Homo sapiens: one gene and its partners. The protein of the gene in region 1 purifies or fractionates together with the protein of each later gene. This does not show direct contact. Each region holds a gene or a part of one and is shown in the gene's direction. Other genes may lie near its edges.

Region 1 (3,024 bases):
CAGTTTCAAATCAAGGCAGACTAGTTCCTGAGTCCACGCTTTTAACCATTACACTCATTTCATTTAACTGTGGGTGTATATTACTGAAAAATAAGACAGCATTCAATATCAAGTCTACTACTGCTTTCATTTTAAGAAAATCAAAGAAAATTTATTAACATAAATGTGTTGAAATGGAGAGAGTATAATTCCAGCACTGTCATTCAATTAATTTTTGATTTAATAATAAATAAAAATAAAATTTGAGAATTATATAAAAATATTTTTTATTTTATTTTTATATAAAAAATTTATGAATTATATACCATAAATTATGTAGTAACCTATCATCAAAAAATGTTTATCATTAAAAAAAGACCTGGCCAAGCACAGTGGCTCACACCTGTAATCCCAGCACTTTGGGAGGCTGAGGCGGGTGGATCACCTGAGGTCAGGAGTTCGAGATCAGCCTGGCCAACATGGTGAAACCCCATCTCTACCAAAAATACAAAAATTAGCCAGGCATGGTGGCACAGGCCTGTAGTCCCAGCTACTCGGGAGGCTGAAGCAGGAGAATCGTTTGAACCCGGGAGGCGGGGCTTGCAGTGATCCCAGATCACTCCACGGCACTCCAGCCTGGGTGACAGAGTGAGACCCCGTCTCAAAAGAAAAAAAAAAAAAAAAAAGACCTGTCAGCTGACAACTCAATTAGATCCTTAAGTTTTACTGAAAAAAAAAAATGGCATGACTTGGAAAAGAATTTTTTCTCAACTAGCCACTAATCAGATTTTCCCTTTAGCATCTCAAAGATTTTTATATACCAAGGTAAAGCACCATAGTACCACTTAGTGTGGATAACAGGTATGCCTTTGTTGCATAAAGCAAGAGAAGGGCGATTTTGAACAGGCTGATAGGAAAGAAAAAGCCCACATCTCCAACAGAGACATATTTACAGATCTGATTACGGAAAAAATGCATATGGAAGTTAGAGATTGGAAAATTTATTCTCTTAAAAGTATTCACCCTTTCTGACCCCAGTGTGAAGATCAATGGGCTAGAATATAAAATACCACTTAGAGTGCAGTTTGGAATTAATGTGTCAAAAACCTTAATGCACAAACCTTTGACCTAGAAATTATAAGTATTTATAAAAGTGTAAATGGGGCTGGGTGAGGTGGGTCACACCTGTAATCCCAGCATTTTGGGAGGCCGAAGTGGGAGGATCGCTTGAGGCAAGGAGCTTGAGACTGGCCTTGGCAACATAATGAGACCCTGTCTCTTTAAAAAAATTTTAAAATCTAGCCAGGCATGATTGGGCACACCTGTAATCGCAGCCACTCAGAAGACTGAGGCTGGAGAATCGCTTAAATTCAGGAGTTCGAGGCTGCAGTGAACTAGAATCACGTCACTGCACTCCAGCCTGGGCAACAGAGTAAGACCCTGTCTCAAAAAAAAAAAGCATAAATGGATACATTACAAAGATATTTTATTGCAGCTTTACTTACAGTAGCCAAAAGTGAGAAACAACCTAAATGATAGTCAATAAAAGGACTGTTAAATAGAAAATGAAATACTGTCTGTAGCCATGAAAAACAGTTAAGTAGATTGTATGTACAGACACAGAAGGAAGTTCATAGTGTCCTATTAAGATAAAAATAAAACTAGTTGCAGAAAAATATCTCCATTAAAAAATAAAACTATATTTATATATGTGGGGAACATATTCATTTATGTACAAATGTATGCTGTTTTTGTGTATATATATAGAGAGAGAGAAAGATAGTCACGCGAAAATATAACAATTAAAACTGTAAACAGTGATTATCTCTGGGAAACAGGATAAGGGAAATGAGGGAGGGAAAATTTTCTTTAATTATGAAAAATTTATATTGTTTAAATTTTCATAATAAGCATACATTACTGTTAGAATTTTTTAAAGTCAATAAAATGACAAAAAGGAAATGGTGCCTAAAACTCAAGATTTTAAGAAATATTCTAGCCACTTAATATTTTTAAGTACAATTTTTAAGTATGTCAACGGTGAATAAGATAAGAATCCTGCTCTCCAAAAACCTGTAAAGTCAGTAGTTAAATCTAAAAATTTCTTATCTTTTTTTAACTCTTCTTTTGCTTACAGAAACCCAGCATATTCCAAACTAGTGATGTTTGTCCAGACAGAAATGAGAGGAAAATTGTCCCCATCAATAATTGAAAAAACCATGCCTTCCAACTTAGTAAACTTCATCCTCAATGCAAAAGATGGAATAAAGGCACACAGAACTCCATCAAGACGTGGATTTCATCATAATAGTCATTCATGATACCAAAAGAAGAAATGAGGCCGTTCTGCTATAAAATCATGTGTAGTAGTTATTGCTGTTTACTTCTAAGTCAACGCACATAAATAATACTGTTAAACTATTCTAGACAGTATTCTTGTACACATGGCTGAAGATAGTTCATAAAAATAAGAACTCATAGTTGTACAAGAATATGGCATTAAATACCGTTTTTAATCTCACGTAAGAATGATGTTAAATAAGTGTTATTAGTATATTTTTATCTTTTGCTTTTGTCCCTGTAAAATCCTCTGTATAAGGACCAATAAGAAAGCAGATACAGTCAGAGGTCAGCATTAACTAAAAGTTAAAATACATTTTAAATTGTTTTTCTTTCACTTACTGCTTAAACTGACAATTGTAGGAAACATGAACATAAAAATTGAAAAGAATTCCACTAAAATGTATGACCAATGACATTTAGAATTTTAAATGCAATGAGTCATCAAACAATTTCTGGTGTGGCCAAGATGCAATAGCCCATTCCTCCCAAGTCTTTCCTCTTAAAACTTAAAGACCCTGCACATAACACAATAAACAAGCATAGGAAAACTCAAGCATAGGTGGAAAGAATGCAGCAAGCTATCTATGGACGTCGGGACTTAAGGAATGACATTCAGTGAGTTCTCTGGGTTTCCTTATTGCCTCCCACATATCCCAGGTGGGAAAGAAACACACACACATGCACACACACACACACACACAC
Region 2 (3,657 bases), on another chromosome or scaffold:
GTCCTAATAACCACAATACCATTGTCACCACCAAGAAAATTAACACTGCCTTCACAACATCTAATATGCAATCCATATTCAAATTTTCCGTTTTCCCCCAAATGTCTATATAATGGTTACACGTCTGTTTAGCAGTTATAACAGTTTCCTCTCCTCTGAAATCTACTTCCAATTTGGTTGTTAAGTCTCTAGTTGATTTTCATCAACAGGACCTGACTTTTTTTTCATGCCTTCGACTCTTGAGAAGTCCAGGCCATTATGTTCGTAAGGTCCCACATCCTGAATATACCTGATTTTCACCTTGTGTGTAGATTCAGGGTAAATATTTTTGGTGTTGTTTTAGCAGGTGTGACTGTGCCCTTCTCACTTTGTTAACAACAGAAGCCTCAGGATGTCAGAGTGTTCTCCACTGGGGAGCCAAGTTTGATTGTTTGGTTAGACAGAGGGTGAGAGATCTCCCGATCTCTCCATTATAAATCGACACTTTCCCTTTATCATAATTAAGTAACTTAATTAAGTCTTCTGTAAAAAAGAGCTTTTCCTTCCTCCTACCTTTTTTTTTTTTTAGCATCATCATTTATGGACATAGAGATTTTATTGTTGGGTGTTATAATCCATAATTGACATCATTCTTTTTGATGCTTAAATTTTCCCAGATTTGGTAGGGATTCCCCTTACAGGGCCCTCCATGCCTTTCTCTTTCACATTTGAGCACTTCCTTGCTTTCTGGCATAACAAAATCAACCTTCTCTTATAGGACCCCTAGTTCCTTTTAGGGGGCAGTGATATTTAGAAACCAAGATGTGGATGCTAAGTCTGCTCTTTCTCTCTGCTTCTTAAGACTGTTTAACTTGGCATTTTTTGTCCTGAGCCTGTATGATATTTACCTCCTTTTGGAGGGTGAGGATATCTTTTTAAAAAATTGATGCATAATGTACATATTTGGGGAATACATTTGATATTTTGATACATGTGTATCATGTGTAGTGATCAAATCAGGGTAATTAGGATATCCATCACCCACCTCAAACATTTATCTTTCCTTTATGGCGGAACATTCCAATTCTCTTCTAGCCATTTTGAACTGTGTAATACGTTATTGTTAACTATAGCCTACTGTACTATCGAACACTAGATTTTATTTCTTCTGTCTAGCTGTATTTATGTACCATTAACCAACCTCTTTTCACATCCCATTCCTCTCTACACTTCCCAGCCTCTAGTAAGCACCAATCAACTTTCTATTTCCATGAGATCCACTTTTTTAGCTCCCACATATGAATCAGAACATGCAGTCTTTGTCTTTCTGTGCCTGGCTTATTTCACTTAACGTAATGACCTCTGTTTCTGTTGGTGTTGCTGAAAATGACAGGATTTTGTTTTCTTAATGGCTGAATAATATTCCACTATGTATATATACGTTTCTTTTTTAAAAATTTAGTTTGATGAAGAATTTCTGGAAACAAAAGAACAGTTGTACAAGTTGCAGGATGGTGAGTATGAAAATGAAACAACTGCCTCTAATACTGATTTTCCTTTAAGAGCTGCTGTTTATGTGGAAGGGCAAAAGTATTCAATGACACTGAACATTCAGAACAGTATCCTAAAACCAAAAAAAGCAAGAGGGAATAAATAGTTGAAATTGCCAGGAAATCACTTCTTATTCAATAGTTCCATAAAAGCTGGCCGAAGGGGGTGAGCAGTTCCTTCCACATCCCGGTGAACAGCTCCTCTCCATCCCTTTCTTCTCCCCTCTCCCCTCCAATCTCTTCCTCCCCCTTTCTTTCTCTCCCTTGCCCCTTCCCTCCTTCTCATCTTTCCCTACTTCCTTCACACTATCTGAGGCATCCTGGCCTGCTTGAAGTATGCAAATAAATATCCCCATTTACATGGGGTACTTTCTGAAGTAAATACTACACAGAAGTGAAATCAACGAACTGCCCCCTCCCTTCACCTTTAATTCCTGGTCAGCCCTGCTCCCTCCTTGCCCATCCATTATAGCAGGAGCCACCAGCAGACCCATAAAGAATGCGCCCATCAACCCTGTGAGCAGCCTCCCTCCCAGCCAACAGCAGGGTCCTCAGGCCCAGCTGGAGGCTCCCCTGTGTGGTACCGGCTCTCCAGGGCTGTAAGGCCACCTTTTGTGTGTGACGGTGGCTGGAAGCCACTAGGCATGTGCTAAGTACTCCTCTTGCCTCTCCCCTCACCTGCTCCGAATGCTCAAACCCTCAAGGCCAAGCTGTACCCTATACCGGCATCTCTCCCCAGGGTTTGGTATGTGGAAAGTGTTGGATTCAGGTTTGTTAAATAAAACAATGGGTTGTTTTTTTAACTAGTGACAGCAAACTTGGTAGTAAACGGTCTGTTCTGTGGCTACAGAGTAGCCATAGAGTATACATGAGCCAAAGAGTATACATGAGTCTCAGCTAGTTACTTAGGTTTCATGATCAGATTCTCTAAAAACAGTGCTGTCCAGCAGAACATTCTACAGTGAAGGAATCGTTCTATTCTGCATTGTCCAATATGGTAGCCACTAGGCAAATGTGACTGTTGAGCACATGAAATATGTCTAGTGCAACTTAGGGACTGAATTTTAAGTTTTAAAAATTGTAATTAATTTAAATTTAGATTTACATAGCTGCGTGTAGCTGGTGACTGCTGTATTGGCCAGTGTAGCACTGAAGAAATATCTTCACTACATTCCCCTCAATCCCTTATCACTGTGGATAGGTATTTTTCCTGGGGTGAAAATGAAAAGGGAACGTTTATAACAATGCTAGTTTTCAGCCTTCTTTTTTTTTTCGAGGTAGAGTCTTGCTCTGTTGCCCAGGCGTGCAATGGCGCGATCTTGGCTCATTGCAACCTCCGCCTCCCGGGTTCAAGCAATTCTCCTGTCTCAGCCTCCCAAGTAGCTGGGACAACAGGCATCTGCTACCACACCCGGCTAATTTTTGTATATCTAGTAGAGGCGGGGTTTCACTATGTTGGCCAGGCTGGTCTTGAACTCCTGACCTCATGATCCGCCTGCCTTGGCCTCCCAAAGTGCTGGGATTACAGGCTTGAGCCACCACGCCTGGCCCCTTCAGGCTTCTTTTGTGGCTAAATCTGCTCTCCTGAATGAAGTTAAGGTTATCTGTCATCTGGAAGCTTTACACTATTTCCTAAGGCCATGATTCCACCGTTTCTTTTCATTCCACAGAGCATTTTTTAGGGGTTGGGGGACAGAGAAGAAAAGATCACTTCTAACTCTGGGCTTCCATTCTCAGGTAACCACCTGCTGTTCCAACAAGTGCCCATGGTTGAAATTGACGGGATGAAGTTGGTACAGACCCGAAGCATTCTCCACTACATAGCAGACAAGCACAATCTCTTTGGCAAGAACCTCAAGGAGAGAACCCTGTACTGTGGCCCCTCTCGAGTGTTGTCACTTGTCAGCTTACTGATGCCTTAGCTGATTAGCAACCTCTGTAGCACACCACATTTACTTTATGTCTTACATAGTTAGTGAGATCAGGGAACAAAAACCCAAGAAGGTCACGAAGACCAGTTGGAACTTCAGTAGAGAGAGTCTGAGTAAAACAAAAGAATAGGATTCAGATATTGAATATTATATCTAGGGTGTCATTGTTTCAGATTTCAACATTTTTAAATGCTTTG
Region 3 (3,657 bases), on another chromosome or scaffold:
CTGGCCAGGTATCAGGGTCTTGGGGAAAAGGAGGGCTTCCCTACAACCCTGAGATTGTGTCAGGCCTCTGGGGGCCTCTGTTTTTTCCCGTTTTTGTTCCTCTAAAGGATGGGGCTTGAGGCCAGAGGTAGAGCCAATCCAAAAGGCGTCAGGGCTCCTCCACCCAGCCCCTCAAGTGTGAGTCTGTGACCTTGGGCCTGACTCCAAGATCAAGTTCCAGTTTTCTGAGCCAAGGAACTCTAAGGTGTTTCTAAATAGAAAGATGGTCGGTAGTAAGAGTGTTGTGGATTTGTAAGAGAAGACAGTGTGAATGCAGGGAACTTCCAATGTAGGCAGAACTTAGGGTTTATCTCACTAAAGGGAAAGGTGTGACTTTTGTTTTACAAGGAAGCTGGGCCCATTTTGGGTCTGATTCCAAGGTTCTTTGGGAGTTTGATGGTGTTGATTTTCCCAGGGGCTATCCATTCCTTTCTTACTCACTCATTCACCCATCCATCCATTCATTCATTCAGTTAGCAGATCTGTTTGGAGCTCTCACTAGGTACCAGGTTCTGTATCAGGCTCTGGTAATAAAGTGGAGAACAAGACAAAGTCCCTGCACTCATGGAACTTCTGTTCTAGGAGGAAAGACAAACAGGTCAACACACACATCAATCATTACAGATAGTGGTGCATGCTGAGGGTGATGGAGGTGAGGTGAAGAGAAGCCTATTTAGATGGGGGTCAAAGAATGCCTCAGCTGAAAGCTGATGGATGAGAAGAAGCCAGGCACGGAAGAAGCCAGGGAAAAGAATGCTCCATGGAGGAATTGGCAAGTGCAGAGGCCCTGAGAGTGCTGGCTCCAGACAGAAGGCCAGAGTTCTAGAGTGGCGGGTGGGTGGGGCCGCAGAGCAAGGCCAGGCCAGATCAGGTGGGGCCTTCAAGACTTCTTGTAACAGCAGGAGGAGGCCACAGAAGGTTAGAAGCAGAGGCTGAAGAAATGACCTCTTACCAGATAGTCTGACTGCTGGGAGGTGGTGGGGGGCGGGGCGTGCATGGAGAGGGTCCTGGGAGTTGAGTGAAGAAGCTGTTGCAGGATTCAAGCTAAAGGCAATGATCTCTGGGGAGATGGGGAAGTGGGCAGAGATGAGAAGCCTTTTAGAGGTAAAAACTGGCAAGACTTGCCTATATTGTGGATAGTGTGAGATTCAGCAGGTAGCTTGTTTGAAATGCTCTGAGGTTTCTATGAGATAGGTGCAGAGGCATATATAATAAGAAATCCTGGGGCTGACACACATGCCTCTGTATTATTTTAACATGATGCAAGGTGTTCACCTTACCCTTCCCCTCAGCCACAGCTGTGTCCTGGGTGTGGGGTCTTACTTAGGTCCATAGCAGATGGAGTATGAGGCCATGGTCTGCCCTCAGCAGATGGGGCATCTGACAAGGCCACATATTCTCTTCAGCATCAATGACAAATGGACCCAGGGCTTGCTCTGGGGACTTTAGGTGACTATTTCTATCAGGAGAGGTTCGCATACATTCAGTTCAACATTGAGCAGCTACTTTGTGCTTACTACCTGATGAGGTCAGAGGCATGGGCGCAGGAAGACCCCACTTTGTGGTCGGGGGCTCACCGTCTCAAGGACATACACATTCAGCAGGTATTTCCAGGATGATGTGTGGGATGAGGGAGGATGTGAAGCTTGCTAAGAGACCTGAGAGCACAGGGACTTGGTCGCTGTCTGCTTGGCTCTGCAGGTATGTGAGACCTCAGCATTCGGTCAGGGATGAAGGGAAAGGACCAAGTCAGGTGGATGGGTGGTTGGAGTCTGAGAGGAAGGAGTGTAGTGGCATAGTGACAATTGAGGCTGAAAGTCAGCATCCACCCTCCCCCATGCACACACACGGCTGAGGAGGGGGAGGTCCGGGCCCTCCACTGAGGCTTATGATCCAAAATACTCAGACAGGAACATGGCAGCCTCCCACACAAGGCTCCTCACAGTGAGAGAATCCGGTATACAAATGCCAAGCTTATAAGCAGGAAGGTGTGTGTCATTTTAATTTCAAAATGACCTTCCCCAGCCTGGGAAACATAGCAAGACCCTATTGCTACAGAAACTTTAAAAATTAGCTGAGTGGGGTAGTGCGTGCCTGTAGTCCCAGCTACTCAGAAGGCCCAGAAATTCAAGGTTGTGGTGAACTGTGATCATGCCATTGTTCTCCAGCCTCAGTGACAGAGTGAGACCCTGTCTCTCTCAAAAAAAAAAAAAAAAAAATTACTCTACCTTACAAAGGATTTTATCCCAGAATTCCCTAATAACAATCAGTGTCAGTAACAAATAAAATGATAGATTTTACTGAAATTCTATTTGCTCATCATGGACATCCTGGTTTGTGTGTGGTAATTTATACCTGGGTAGAATTTCACACTGATGACTTCTCATATCATAACATCCAGGAAATGCCACAAAAATGTCCTGCTCTACCTGACAGGCTGTTAGTCCTCATCAAATATTTAGGAATCTTAGCAGCTTCCTCACCCTCCTTCTCATGAGTGTTGTACACATGCCAAAGTTCTTATGTAATGTCTTGATTGACAGCAGCCAAATTGCTGAACTCAAGTGGCTGGGAACCCTGGAGAGGTGTGCTCAGAGTAAACATTTCATTATAAAGGGAAGTGTGGAATCCTTCTTGCAGACTCTTGAATAAAGAAAGCCTGGGTTGGCTGGGCACGGTGGCTCACACCTGTAATCCCAACTTTGGGAGGCCAAGGTGGGTGGATCACTTGAGCCCAGGAGTTCGAGACTAGCCTGGGCAACATGGTGAAATCCCATCTCTACAAAAAATACAAAAATTACCCAAGGTTGGTGGTGCACACCCATAGTCCCAGCTACTCAGGAGGCTGATGTGGGAGGTTAGCTTGAGCCTGGGAAGTGGAGGTTGCAGTGAGCTGAGATTGTGCCACTGCACTCCAGCCTGAGCACAGAGCGAGACCCTGTCTTAAAAAAAAAGAAAAGAAAGAAAAAAAGAAAAACCTGGATTTTCTTTACTGACTACAATTCCCCAACTAATATTGATTTGTTGTTTGTTTCCAACGAGCCCTTGTTTCCTGTGAATTCTATTTTGGTTCAGCCGTTACCTGATTAAGCTGTTAAGCTGGGCCTTAAATTGTTTTACCTAGAGGCTGCTGTATACTCCTGAAATGCAGTGCTTAAGCGACAGTACGTTGTTCCCATTGCCACATTTAAGGTTGCACATGCTTTGGATGTTCTACGGATCTGAAGTCTTGTTTGCTCACCCCAAAACTGGAGAATAAAACTAGTACTTTGTCTTTTTCAGCTTATGCTAAAAGTGGGAGGTCTCAGGTGGGTTGTTGTTTTTTAAAAAATATCTATCCAATATCCTGTTTAAAAAAAACACTTCTCTAGAGTATATTTTCTGTTAAGCAAATTCAGTCTAATTTTTTTTTTAGCAGTTTATGTTTCTTGAATGGGAAAAAGCCAATATTTGGGTGACATTAGGCCTTGGTCTTAACTGCCAGTGGTCTCAGGGCTCCTTCCTTCCTTTCTTGGTGGGCAGCCTCTGTGGCTTCAGATTATTGTGTTGTTTTATGGGTAGGTTTTTTTTTTTCCTTTTCAAAGTGATTCCCAATCTTTTAAAGTTTTAATTTGAGGA

Evidence for each region.
Region 2: the proteins of STARD6 (region 1) and GSTA4 purify together in Homo sapiens (affinity purification with mass spectrometry; one large-scale study listed by BioGRID and IntAct). This does not show direct contact.
Region 3: the proteins of STARD6 (region 1) and EEPD1 purify together in Homo sapiens (affinity purification with mass spectrometry; one large-scale study listed by BioGRID and IntAct). This does not show direct contact.

What each region holds. Positions count from the first base shown.
Region 1 is NC_000018.10:54,323,968-54,326,991, reverse strand, and holds the end of STARD6 (stAR-related lipid transfer protein 6), read left to right. Parts: intron 1-2,116; coding exon 2,117-2,300; 3' UTR 2,301-2,500; downstream 2,501-3,024. UniProt on the Homo sapiens protein: May be involved in the intracellular transport of sterols or other lipids. May bind cholesterol or other sterols.
Region 2 is NC_000006.12:52,985,193-52,988,849, reverse strand, and holds part of GSTA4 (glutathione S-transferase A4), read left to right. Parts: intron 1-1,441; coding exon 1,442-1,493; intron 1,494-3,266; coding exon 3,267-3,399; intron 3,400-3,657. UniProt on the Homo sapiens protein: Conjugation of reduced glutathione to a wide number of exogenous and endogenous hydrophobic electrophiles. This isozyme has a high catalytic efficiency with 4-hydroxyalkenals such as 4-hydroxynonenal (4-HNE).
Region 3 is NC_000007.14:36,159,659-36,163,315, forward strand, and holds part of EEPD1 (endonuclease/exonuclease/phosphatase family domain-containing protein 1), read left to right. Parts: intron 1-3,657.